Linked DNA regions of Homo sapiens. The protein of the gene in region 3 binds, or shares a complex with, the protein of the main gene of each other region. Each region holds a gene or a part of one and is shown on either strand. Other genes may lie near its edges. The genes, in order: CWC15, PRPF4 and SNRPF.

Region 1 (3,752 bases), on a different chromosome or scaffold from region 3:
ACACATTTAGCAAAACTATTACCTTCATTTTAAAGGGTCATACCTAACTGTGATTAATTTTAATCTTATTTTGAATTACTAATAATGTAAACTTGTGTCTCTAGGTTTGGTGACAAGTTATGAATGAAGAAGTAACTCCTAAAATAGGACAAACTACCATATACAAAATTATATCCAGTTAACATGAATTTCTACTAATTTACCTGAGGTTGATCTATTTTGTTTTTATTGTCTTACTGAGTTTTTCTTTTTTTTTTTTTTGAGACGGAGTCTCACTGTTGCCCAGGCTGGAGTGCAATGGCATGATCTCAGCTCACTGCAACCTCCACCTCCCAGGTTCAAGTGATTCTCCTGCCTCAGCCTCTGGCACGTGCCATCATGCCCGGCTAATTTTTGTATTTTTAGTAGAGACGTCATTTCACCATGTTGGCCAGGCTGGTCTCGAACTCCTGACCTCGTGATCCGTTCACCTCGGCCTCCCAAAGTGCTGAGATTACAGGCGTGAGCCACCGTGCCCGGCCTCAGTTTCTATTTTTATACCTCCCATCCTTTATCAGTTACAACACTGTCTTTCTTCACTTTTATTTTAGCATCAACTTCTTCAAAGTCAAATCACCCTGAGTTTCCTTCTCAGAATGTGGAATATAAAATGTCTAAAATCCTTAGCTATCACTTCTAGATCTACCTGTTAACATGTTATCTTAAGCCAAATATAAATCCCATTTTGCTGTGTTTTGGGGATAACAGAAATTGATGACTTAATAGATCAAGGAAAAACAGATGGTGTGGAAGTCATTTAAAAAAAGTTATTATTTTAATAATCTAATTTTTCATACAGGTTACTGATACTTCATTTCAATATTCAAATGTAAACAATGAATTTCATTTTTATGAAGAAAAATAAAAATCAAAATGGGAGGTGAAAAGATCTAACTTGTAAGGAAATAGGAAAATTCCTTTATGTCACTGGTCAGAACTTAAATCAGGAACTATACATCACAGAACAGGTGGCTTTCTAAAAGCTATATATTTATTTGTAACAAATTATACCGATGCTTAAAGGGAAAAGATATTTCTCTGAAATACTAGAAAAATAGGAGCTTAAGTATACCATATATCCAAACTTATAATGTGTATGACATATAAAGGTTATGGACATTTTATGTTTGGAATATTATTTCCTTTGGGGTTACTGAATGATTGCCACACAGAGCACTAGGAAAAAAGGCATAAACTCTTTCTATATTCAAACAGCAGGCATACTATGTTTCATAATATAGGCTAGTCATCAGATGGCATGTAGGTCAAATCCTAACTAACTGTTTTTGTAAATATTTTATTGAAACATTGCCACACTTGTTCACTTATGTACTCTGTGGGTGTTTTTATGTTATAACAGTGGAGGTGAGTAGGTGTGATAGAGGCTCCATGACCAGCCAGCCTAAAATATTTACTACCTGGCCCTTTACAGAAAGGGTGCTGACCCCTGACAAGGGCTAAATGGTTTGAAAATCTTAAATTTGGAACATGGCAAAAACCAGCCAATAGAAAGGGAAACAGGGATAAAAGAAACTATCATTCAACCGCAAGAAATATCAACACATTTTAATACAGATATTAGATGAAACTCACAAAACTGCAAGGCCTTCTGTCTAAAATGTTTATCCTCCCTCAAGGTCAACCAAAAGCATTTAAATTGCTCATCTCTATGTGTCCAGAACTATTAGGCAAGCTAAAAAAATTTGGAACAATTGCCCTCTAGTGGTATGCAAGTGGGACTGGGAATGTTTTTATAATTCTTTGACTTTTAAAAACTAGATGTAAAAACTATAAGCTATTACAGGAATTATGCTCTCTTATACAAAACTTTGATGAGAATTGTATTTTGAAATGCTTTTCTTCTTCCAATCTGAATTCTAAGTCTTCAAAGTCTATCCCAAATTCTACCTGTTTTCTGAATTCTTCCCTGGCCCTCCTGATTCACATGAAGTCTACTTCCCTAGATTCCTGGTATTGACCATGCAGTATATTTTCTTACTTTCTTTTTTAAAAACAGAACAATTCTTGCCTCAAATAAAATTTTACACAGAAATCTATGAAAAAGCTGTGCTGCTCTGGTTGAAAACAGGGGCAGACAACCCTACCTGAATGTCTCACAATGTGTCAAATTTAACATGTTCAAAACAGAACTCATCAACTACCTCTTCTCTCTGCCTAAATATGGCAATTCTTTTGCATTCCCTGTATTGATGGCACCAACATTTACCTAGAAAGTGAGGGTCCTCTCTGCTGCTACAATCAATCAGTCACTATCTGTCAACTCAACCTCCTTTTTTATTTTTTCCTGCTCCCCTTCCCACTTTGACCTCCTTGATAATCAGCTTTATCAGCATCTAATTACTTACCTCAATTCCAACTCCTATCATACAAGCTAAGAGTCTCTTAATTGGGAGGATTACTGGAACAGCCTCCTAACTCAGTTTTTTTCCAATCCATCCTCCATATTTTGCCAGAGTAATCTTTCTAAAATGCGTATCCAGTTTTATCAATCTCCTGCTGAAATCAACCAGCTCTTCATGTCCTTTAGAAAAAATCTAGACTCCTTCAGTATTGTTTTGCAAACCTCTAATGCTCTGACTTGCACTTGCCTCCTCAGTTTCACCTCTTATTATCACTCTGGGTAATTTATTCAGAATTTTAACTATCTTTGAGTTTTATATTTTTTCCTCATATTGTGTAAACAGAGAGACTGTGGGGGCTCAGAGAAGTTAGGTAGCTTGACCTAGGTTATATAATATCTACTGACTGATTGCCTTAATAGTACCTAGGCAGTAGACAAGCAGAGAGATAATCTTTGTAGACCACAACTATATCTTGATCATCTTTGATTCTCCTGTCAATTAACAGATATCGACTAAATGTTGAACAAATGAATAAACAAGTAAATGACTAGCAAGCCTGTGAATATTACTCAGTGCATCTGAACTATTTGGAAAGAATTTCTTACATAACCAGGATACCTAGGATGTCATAAAAATAATCATTTATAGATCTACAAGTGCTATAATATTTAGACACGGTAAAGGAGATTTCTAATATAAGAAGATATTACTTATATTCAAAAAAATTTCTACCTTAGTGTATGTGAGAAGATAGATGTAAATATTTAATACTTTGGTTTTACCTTCCTGGCCTGCTCTTCAGCTCTTTCTTTTTTAATTTTTTCCAGTTCTGCAAGAAGAGCTGCAGTATCATCATCATCACTTTCTTCTTCAAAATCTTCATCTTCCTCCTAAAAGAACAGTGAGAGCCCAGAAGATTGGAGGGAAAATACACACTACCAAAACACAGTACATATGTACAACGTATCACCCTAAGAAAGTCAAAACAATTTTATGTAGCTCAAAACAACTTTAAGCTAGCAGCAAAGATACTCAAAAGTGCAAAAAAGTGTGCTAAATTCTCAGAAGAAAATAATTTCAAATGAATAATCATTAAATTTCAGTTGAAATTAGGTTTCCTGTTTTAACTATTATGAGTAACTCCATCAATTAACTCTAGAATTAACTGCTGATATGTATACATAGTTAGATATTACTCATTGGATGCCACTCAGGTTTTTCACTGTCCTGTATGTAGAAAACTGCAAATTGATTATAGGCTCTAGGGTCCCACAGAATTTTAACATTAACTGATGTGCTAATCCTTAAAAACCTTCTGCTTAGATTACTTCCCTCCCTAAGCACAGAGGG
Region 2 (3,752 bases), on a different chromosome or scaffold from region 3:
TAGCTTTGGCTGTTGTTACAATAATGTTTCTGTTACATCTTCTGGATAGACAGCCTAGTTAACTCATTTGCAAAAGATGTTCTGTACTCTTACTTGCTGGTCTCAGCCAAAGTGTGTGTTTATATAGGCACAAAGTTAATAAATGAAACAAGAGGTGGCTTGAACCATTTTCTTGCCTTTTGAAGCTGTGTCATTTAGGTTTATGTGTTTGGCATAATTTAATAAACTGAAAAACAGTAAACTATAAAATGTGTAATAGACAGTTACTTTTCCCTCAGGGCATACACAGACTGCAATTACTAGAAATTATTTCTCTCTATTTGAAGAAGATCTGCTGATGTTGCCTGTTTTCTTTTTAATAGGAGAAGTGTTTGAAATTGAAGAGCATATCAGCGAGCGACAGGCAGAAGTATTGGCTGAGTTTGAGAGAAGGAAGCGAGCCCGGCAGATCAATGTTTCCACAGATGACTCAGAGGTCAAAGCTTGCCTTAGAGCCTTGGGGGAACCCATCACACTTTTTGGAGAGGGTCCTGCTGAAAGAAGAGAAAGGTTGCCTTTCTAAATATTTACTTTTTTTCTTTATTATAATCACAGGGTTCTACTCCAAATTTTGGTTGATCATTTAGTTGAACTTTAATAGAATGTCTCAAATCATGTTAACAATATCTTACTGTGTTTATATGAGTTAGCCCATAATCTGTCTTAGGCCAATTTTTACCGCACTATTAATGTTTCTTTTTTGTGTTTGTTCGTTTTTGTTTTGTTTTGTTTTGTTTTGTTTTGTTTTGTTTTGTGTTTTGAGACAGAGTCTTGCTCTGTCACCCAGGCTTGAGTGCAGCGTCGTGATCTCGGCTCACTGCAGCCTCCGCCTCCCGGGTTCAAGCGATTTTCCTGCCTCAGCCTCCCAAGTGGCTGGGATTACAGGCACCTGCCACCACATTTTTCTTTTTTGTATTTTTAGTTATTTTTTATATTTTTGTATTTTTAGTAGAGACAGGGTTTCACCATGTTGGCCAGGCTGGTCTTGAACTCCTAACCTCAAATGATTTACCCACCTTGGCCTCCCAAAGTGCTGGGATTACAAGCGTGAGCCTTCGTGCCTGGCCCGTTTTTCTTTATAGACTTGGAAGAGGGTGCTAACATGCTCCCTTGCCTCCCCTCCCCAGTGCGAGTTTTGAATTGGATAAACATTTGTTGTTGGGCTTTGAAAATTGAGACATCAAATGCATTCCATATCAATGACATAGAACAATGATAAATGTTTCTTGGATTTTATTGAAGAGGGGTACCATCCTCAGATAATGCCCTCTTGTTATTTGCAGGTTGCGAAGTCTTAGTTGTGGTCTAGTCACACACAATTATGAGGAGCCCCTCTGGTCTCTCTGTCCACTGTCTCATCTACCCTTCATCATCCAGCTTGTTGGAAGGGTTTTTTCTATTACTCCCTTGAGGTCCTTACCCTTATTTACTCTTCAACCTGCTGCAAACTGACCAACCCCTACCACATTAAAATTGCTCTTTGTTAAGATCACCAATCCACCTTTACTAAGAATAGCCCTAGTATACTGCCAGCCACTCCTCCTTGAAATACTCCCTCCTTGAACTACTCCCTTTCCTTCACTCTCCTAATAACAAATCCTCTTGATTTTCCTCTTCTCTCACTAGCTAATTCTTCTCACTTACCTTCTAAACCTCTTTTTCTCTGCCTGCCCTTTACAGGCTGCCTTTTTCTCTACTTGCCCTTGGTGATCAGCTCTACTCCCATGGCATCATTCACTGTGTGTTCTGATGATTCCCAAATCTCTCACTGCAGCTTAGGTATCCCACAGGTACTTCAAACTTGAGACATCTGAATTGAAATATTTCCCCACCTCTCTCCTATACTCATACAATTCTTAGTTGAAAATCTGCCTAGCCTCCTTTATAATCCATTAGCAAAATCTGGTCTGTTCTACTTGCGAGATACAACTCCAGCTATCTTCTTTGCTCTATCTTTACTGCTTTCAAATCTGCACTGTTGTGATAGCCCCAAACATGTTGTGTTAATTGCTTGCTTAAAATCCTAGATTGTCTTCTCATACTTGGAGTAAAAAACTCTTACCATGGTCTGTAAGGTCTTCAGCCTTACTCATGTCTCCCTTCCCCAATTTACTAGAATAGCCACATTGGTCCTTATGGAATATGCTAGTTCTTTTTATGTCTTTCCACATAATTGGTCTACTTTTATTCTTCTGTCTTGTCTTTTAGAGGCTTTTTTTCTTCCTTTTTTTTTCTTTGAAACGGAGTCTCGCTCTGTCACCCAGGGTGGAGTGCGGTGGTGCAATCTCAGCTCACTGCAACCTCCACCTCCCAGGTACAAGCCATTCTCCTGCCTCAGCCTCCCAAGTAGCTGGGACTACAGGCATGTGCCACCATGCCTGGCTAATTTCTGTATTTTTAGTAGAGACGGGGTTTCAACACGTTGGCCAGGTGTTGAACACCTCCTCAAGTGATCCTCTCAACACCTCCTCAAGTGATCCGCCTGCCTGGGCCTCCCAAAGTGCTGGGATTACAGATGTGAGCTACCGCGCCCGGCCTTTCTTCTTCATTTTTTATTAACCTGGATCCCTGTCAAACTTCTTATTCTTTCGTTTCAGCATAGATGCCACCTATTCAAAGAAGCCTTTCGTCACACCTAACCCCTCTGTTCTCTGTCATAGTATGTTATTTTATTAGCCTTTTCAAAGGGTATACTTTTTTATTATTGTTTAGTTTGTTTTTTCCACCAGCAAAGTCTATCTTATTCATTATTATGTTCCTTAAATGAATCCTTTGAGTCACTACTGCTACTATCTGAATTTCAGTCCACGGTTGTGACTCAGAGCGTCACTACAACAGTACTGTCTGATTTCCCTGCCATTATTCTTCCCTTTTAATCCATTCTTTGTACTGTTTCAGGGATCTTTCTCATCTGTAAATCCTCCTGAGCGTGGCATTAGCAATTCTTTGTGACCTGGCTCCTCCTTGCATTTGCAGCCCTATTCTTCACCAGTCCTCTTCTATGTTCTACGCTCCAGCCATATTGAATTATTTGTGACTGCAAGCTCAACATGTTTTTCTTACCTCCAGGCCTTATTTGTTTAACCCTCTGCCTGACATTTTCTCATTCTTGACCCCCTTGACCTGATTAACTGAGGACTCAATTTACATATTACCTTTTTTTAATGAAGCCTTCCCTGATCCTCTAAGCTTAGTTAGATGCCCGTTACAAAGTCCCCTCTAGCCCTCTGTGCTTACTGCTATAGTGATAGGTAATATAATGGATTATAGTTTGCCAGTACTCTCTGTTGTTTCCCCAGGACTAAGCTACTTGAAATCAAGAACTGATTCCTAGTCATCACTGTATAGTTAGCACCTGAGTCAGTATCCAGTACATTGTGGCACTGAGTGAAAGTTGGCAGTCTTCACAGACCAAGTGGTAGCAGTGTAGGGGCTCATTGACTCTAAACTGTATAGAGTAATTGCTTATAGTTGAATTTTGGAAATTTCCAAATAGAGAAGACTGAGTGGGAGAAACCACACTGGGAGTTTAGCCATCCCCACTTGACTCTTAAAGAAGGTTCCTGGAGGGCCGGGTATAGTGGCTCATGCCCGTAATCCCAGCACTTTGGGAGGCTGAGGCAGGAGGATCACTTGAGCCCAGAAGTTCAAGACTTGCCTGGGCAACATAGCAAGCCCTTCTCTCTACAGAAAAATTTAAAAATTAGCCAGTT
Region 3 (3,752 bases):
AGGTTGCCTGAAATAAGTAATACCTCAGTTTTAAAGGATAAGAGTTTATTTCCAGAGCGGGAAAAAATGCTGTTCCAGGCAAGGCTAGCTACTTATGTAAAAGGAGGGAAGAGTGATGCAACAAGGTGGTTTTGGGGACATACAATTCAGCATTGTCAGTCAAAGCCCCAAATATAAAACTACAGAAGGAAGCAGAGGGCAGATCACGCTTGACAGTATTTAACTGGGGAAGCTAGGGCTAGGTCCTATCTGACTTTGTCAGTAGCACCGCCTCTTACTTACAGCAATTACTTAATGTCTATTTATTCAGCAAACCATTAACATCTCCAGTGATTTCGGTTTTTGCCCTCTTCTGCTCACTCACCAGTCAAACAAAGAAGAGAACTAAGAAACTTGGCTACTAACCCCCTCTAACATGAGCATATTCGGAGTGATCTTGATATGGCGATTACTCCAATAACCTAATGGGTCTCCAGTTTTCATTCTCCAATTTGTTATCCACCACAGTAACTATGATTTTTTAAAGTGCACATCAGATTGTCATATTTCTGCTTAAAATGATCCAATGGCTTCCAACCGAATCATTTTAAATTGATTTGGAGTACAATCAAAACCTCCCAATACAGCCTAAGAGGTCCTGCCCAACGCCTGCTCCTCCGATACCATCTCTTAACCACTATTCGCGCAAGTGGCTATACCTTTCTGTCAATTTCTCCAAATGACCAAGCTTTCTTTCCGGCCGCAGGTCTTATGCTCCTATTCCCTGTGCTCGGTACACTCCTCCTCCTGCTCTTTAAAGGGTCGTATTTCATGACACTTAGGCTTCGAGTTAAATTCCACCTCCTAGGGAGGCCATCTCTGACTAAGCCTCTAATGTCTAACGCGCACCCTCACAGCCTCCTGTCTGCATTGTTCTTAGCACTTATTATTTGCAATTACATACTTGTTATTTTTTGACTAATGTCTGTCTTCCCCACCCAAGTGAGTTAATCTAGAGCATGGCCGTATCATTACTTTCACGGAATGAAAGTGAATTCTGGAGTGTGGTTAAGTGGGAAGTGCAAATTCTCTTTGACTTTTACCCCGACCCTATAGCCCCAACTAAGAATACCCCAGGCCCGGATTCAAACAAAGAGAAGAAGGCACGGGCACTCCTAGGAAAAGAAAGGCATCGGGAGGAGCACGCGCCTCAGAAACCTAAAAGCAGAGTGAAAGGAGCTGGCGACAGGGTGCGCGGCGCCTCACGCGGATGAATGGGAAACGCGCGAAGGAACCAGCAGGCCCCGCGAGGCTGGTCTCCCTCCTTCTCTTTCTCCCCGCTTCTCCCGCCGTTCTCTTTCTCCTTACCATCGTAACCACGGCCGAATGTTGCAGGCTACTCTCTGCCGACCAGGCCGCCGCCCGTCCCTCGTGACTACAGCAGGTACCGCAGGTCCCGAGCCGCAGTTTCAAGAGAAATGGCCGCCAAACAGGACTATGACCTTTCACCTCCCACCACGGCCCTTCCTGCCTCTGTGATTGGACGCAAAGAGGTGCGTGCTGATTGGAGGAGATGGCTGGCCCAGTATCTCCTAGCAACCAGCAGCGGCTTGGGTTTGCGCCTTGCAGGCGGCGCGCGGACCTTGGGAAACCGGCTCTGAGCATCGCTGTGAGGCAGCCAAGGACTGGAGGCAGGCCGGTGTTTTTAAATGTGGTGTCCTTCCTAGAGGGCGGTCTGGGAGAGGCTGTGTAACGGATGTGACTTCTCCCCAACTTGGCTAATGGGGATTTACTTTGTCTTTTTACACCCGTGAGAATGTTCGGGGTCCCAGAGTTCCTTCCTCACTCTTCCAACAGGTTCCATGATTTGGGGGCGCCTCTGCCGCAGGCCCTTTCTACCTGAGTGTTCTCTCTTCTGCAACACCCGTTTTAACCCCTTTTAAAGGAATTGGGGGCTAGCCAGACTAGACTAGGGGCGGCGAAACGCACTGAAGAGAGTTGGATACAGAATTTCTTGCAAACGAGGTCGAGTTGCGTCTGGGATACGGTGTCATGCCCCACCCCCGCCCCACGACCCTGCCGGCCCCACCTTTCTTTTGCTTCGCCTGCAGAAACCCGCACGGCCTTCATACGTGCATTTGAAATTACCTAAGGGCGTAAGCAATATTTCCTCTGTCACGGATTAAAACTTTCGATGTAACGGTGTTATCTGAATCTCACTAGTTTTTGTCGTAATCCTATTGAGTTCGGGTCACTCTGATCTGAAATGCTAAATGCAGTTCTTGGAGAACACGCCCTTTGGGAAGTAACGCTTTTTTGCGGCCCTGAAGAGATGGATTTGGAGTTGAGGATGAAATGTTGGGTGTTGAGGCATTGTGGAGCAGTGGGCAAGACTTTGGAGGGGGCCTGCATTCGGAACCTGCGTCTATCAGGCGCGGCCGGTGTTGGGCAGTGTCTTAACCCCGAGGGCCATTGTTTCCTCGGCAGGAACGCGGCTTTAAAAACGGAACCATCCTCAGGGTGGTTGCGAGAATTTAACGTAAAACGGGGCTTGGCCTTGTAAAAGCTCAGTGTTTCACGTAAATGTTGAACACTGACCAGACAATGATTGTCAGTGTAGTTTTTACCAAACAGTTATTAGATTTATTCACCCTAAACTTCAGTGGATTTCTCCGTTTGTCTATTGTTTTATGAACTTTAAGTCTTTGTATAGACTTTGAGTTCCTACTATGTGTCAGGCTTTTTCAACAATCGTGGAAATCTTACCTTACTGTCTGATTCGGGGTGACAGCCCCGTTTAAGAGATGAGGAAGTAGGCCCAGCAGGTAACTGTTACCAGTTGAGGGTAGCTGTCCGAGTTCTTGGCGTTTTCAACAAAGAATTGGACAAAACGCACAAACAAAGCAGGGCAGCGAAAGCAGAGATTTATTTTAAATGAAAGTACACTCTACAGGGTGGGCACCGCCTGGTGCAAGCGGCTCAAGAGCATTGGTTATAGAATTTTCTGGGCTTTAAATACCCTCTAGAGGTTGCCCATTGGCCCACAACCAGTCTGATTGGTTGCGGGAGGGGACCAATAAGAGGTACTTTCATTTTTCAACTGCCACGCAGAAAAAGGAGGGGTTGAAATGGGAGTAGCCTCTGATACCCAGTCAGCATGGATGGGCCCTAGGTTCCCTGCTTCCAGCCGCTATTCTTCTGCCTCATAGCTTGCTCAGGACCACATACCTGGGTTTCAAAACTCTGCTTTTTCTACTTCATGAAGCTACCTTTCAAAGACTCAATATGTGTTTTAGAAGCCTGACTCTTTAGCTGTTTTCTCAGTGAAGTGAAACGAAATACTACAGTAAACACATTCTGTAAAGATAGTGTATTTAAGGTTGGTTTTTCTTTTCATGTTAAATTTTTTTTTTAATTTGAGACAGGGTCTCATTCTGTCACCCAGGCTGGATTGTAGAGGTGAGATCTTGGCTTACTGCAGCCTTGACCTCTTGGGCTCAAGAGATCCTCCCACTTCAGCCTCCCGAGTAGCTGGGACCACAGGCATGTGCCACCACACCCAGCTAATTTTTTAATTTTTTTTGTAGAGATAGGGTCTCGCTGTGTTGTCCAGGCTGGTCTCAAACTCTTGGGCTCCAGCTGTGTACCCACCTTGGCCTCCCAAAGTGCTGGGATTACAGGCGTGAACCACCATTCCTGGTCCATATTAAATTTTAATCTTAAATACCTTATTAAAATTAAGTGGGCATAAGTCACTGATATTTGTCTAATTA

What was found.
Region 1: SNRPF (region 3) and CWC15 share a complex: the UniProt entries of both Homo sapiens proteins name them as parts of the minor spliceosome.
Region 2: SNRPF (region 3) and PRPF4 share a complex: the UniProt entries of both Homo sapiens proteins name them as parts of the U4/U6-U5 tri-snRNP complex.

The regions. Positions count from the first base shown.
Region 1 is NC_000011.10:94,966,805-94,970,556, forward strand, and holds part of CWC15 (spliceosome-associated protein CWC15 homolog), read right to left. Parts: intron 3,293-3,752; coding exon 3,185-3,292; intron 1-3,184. UniProt on the Homo sapiens protein: Involved in pre-mRNA splicing as component of the spliceosome. Component of the PRP19-CDC5L complex that forms an integral part of the spliceosome and is required for activating pre-mRNA splicing.
Region 2 is NC_000009.12:113,278,583-113,282,334, forward strand, and holds part of PRPF4 (U4/U6 small nuclear ribonucleoprotein Prp4), read left to right. Parts: intron 1-362; coding exon 363-549; intron 550-3,752. UniProt on the Homo sapiens protein: Plays a role in pre-mRNA splicing as component of the U4/U6-U5 tri-snRNP complex that is involved in spliceosome assembly, and as component of the precatalytic spliceosome (spliceosome B complex).
Region 3 is NC_000012.12:95,856,672-95,860,423, reverse strand, and holds the start of SNRPF (small nuclear ribonucleoprotein F), read right to left. Parts: upstream 1,473-3,752; 5' UTR 1,351-1,472; coding exon 1,348-1,350; intron 1-1,347. UniProt on the Homo sapiens protein: Plays a role in pre-mRNA splicing as a core component of the spliceosomal U1, U2, U4 and U5 small nuclear ribonucleoproteins (snRNPs), the building blocks of the spliceosome.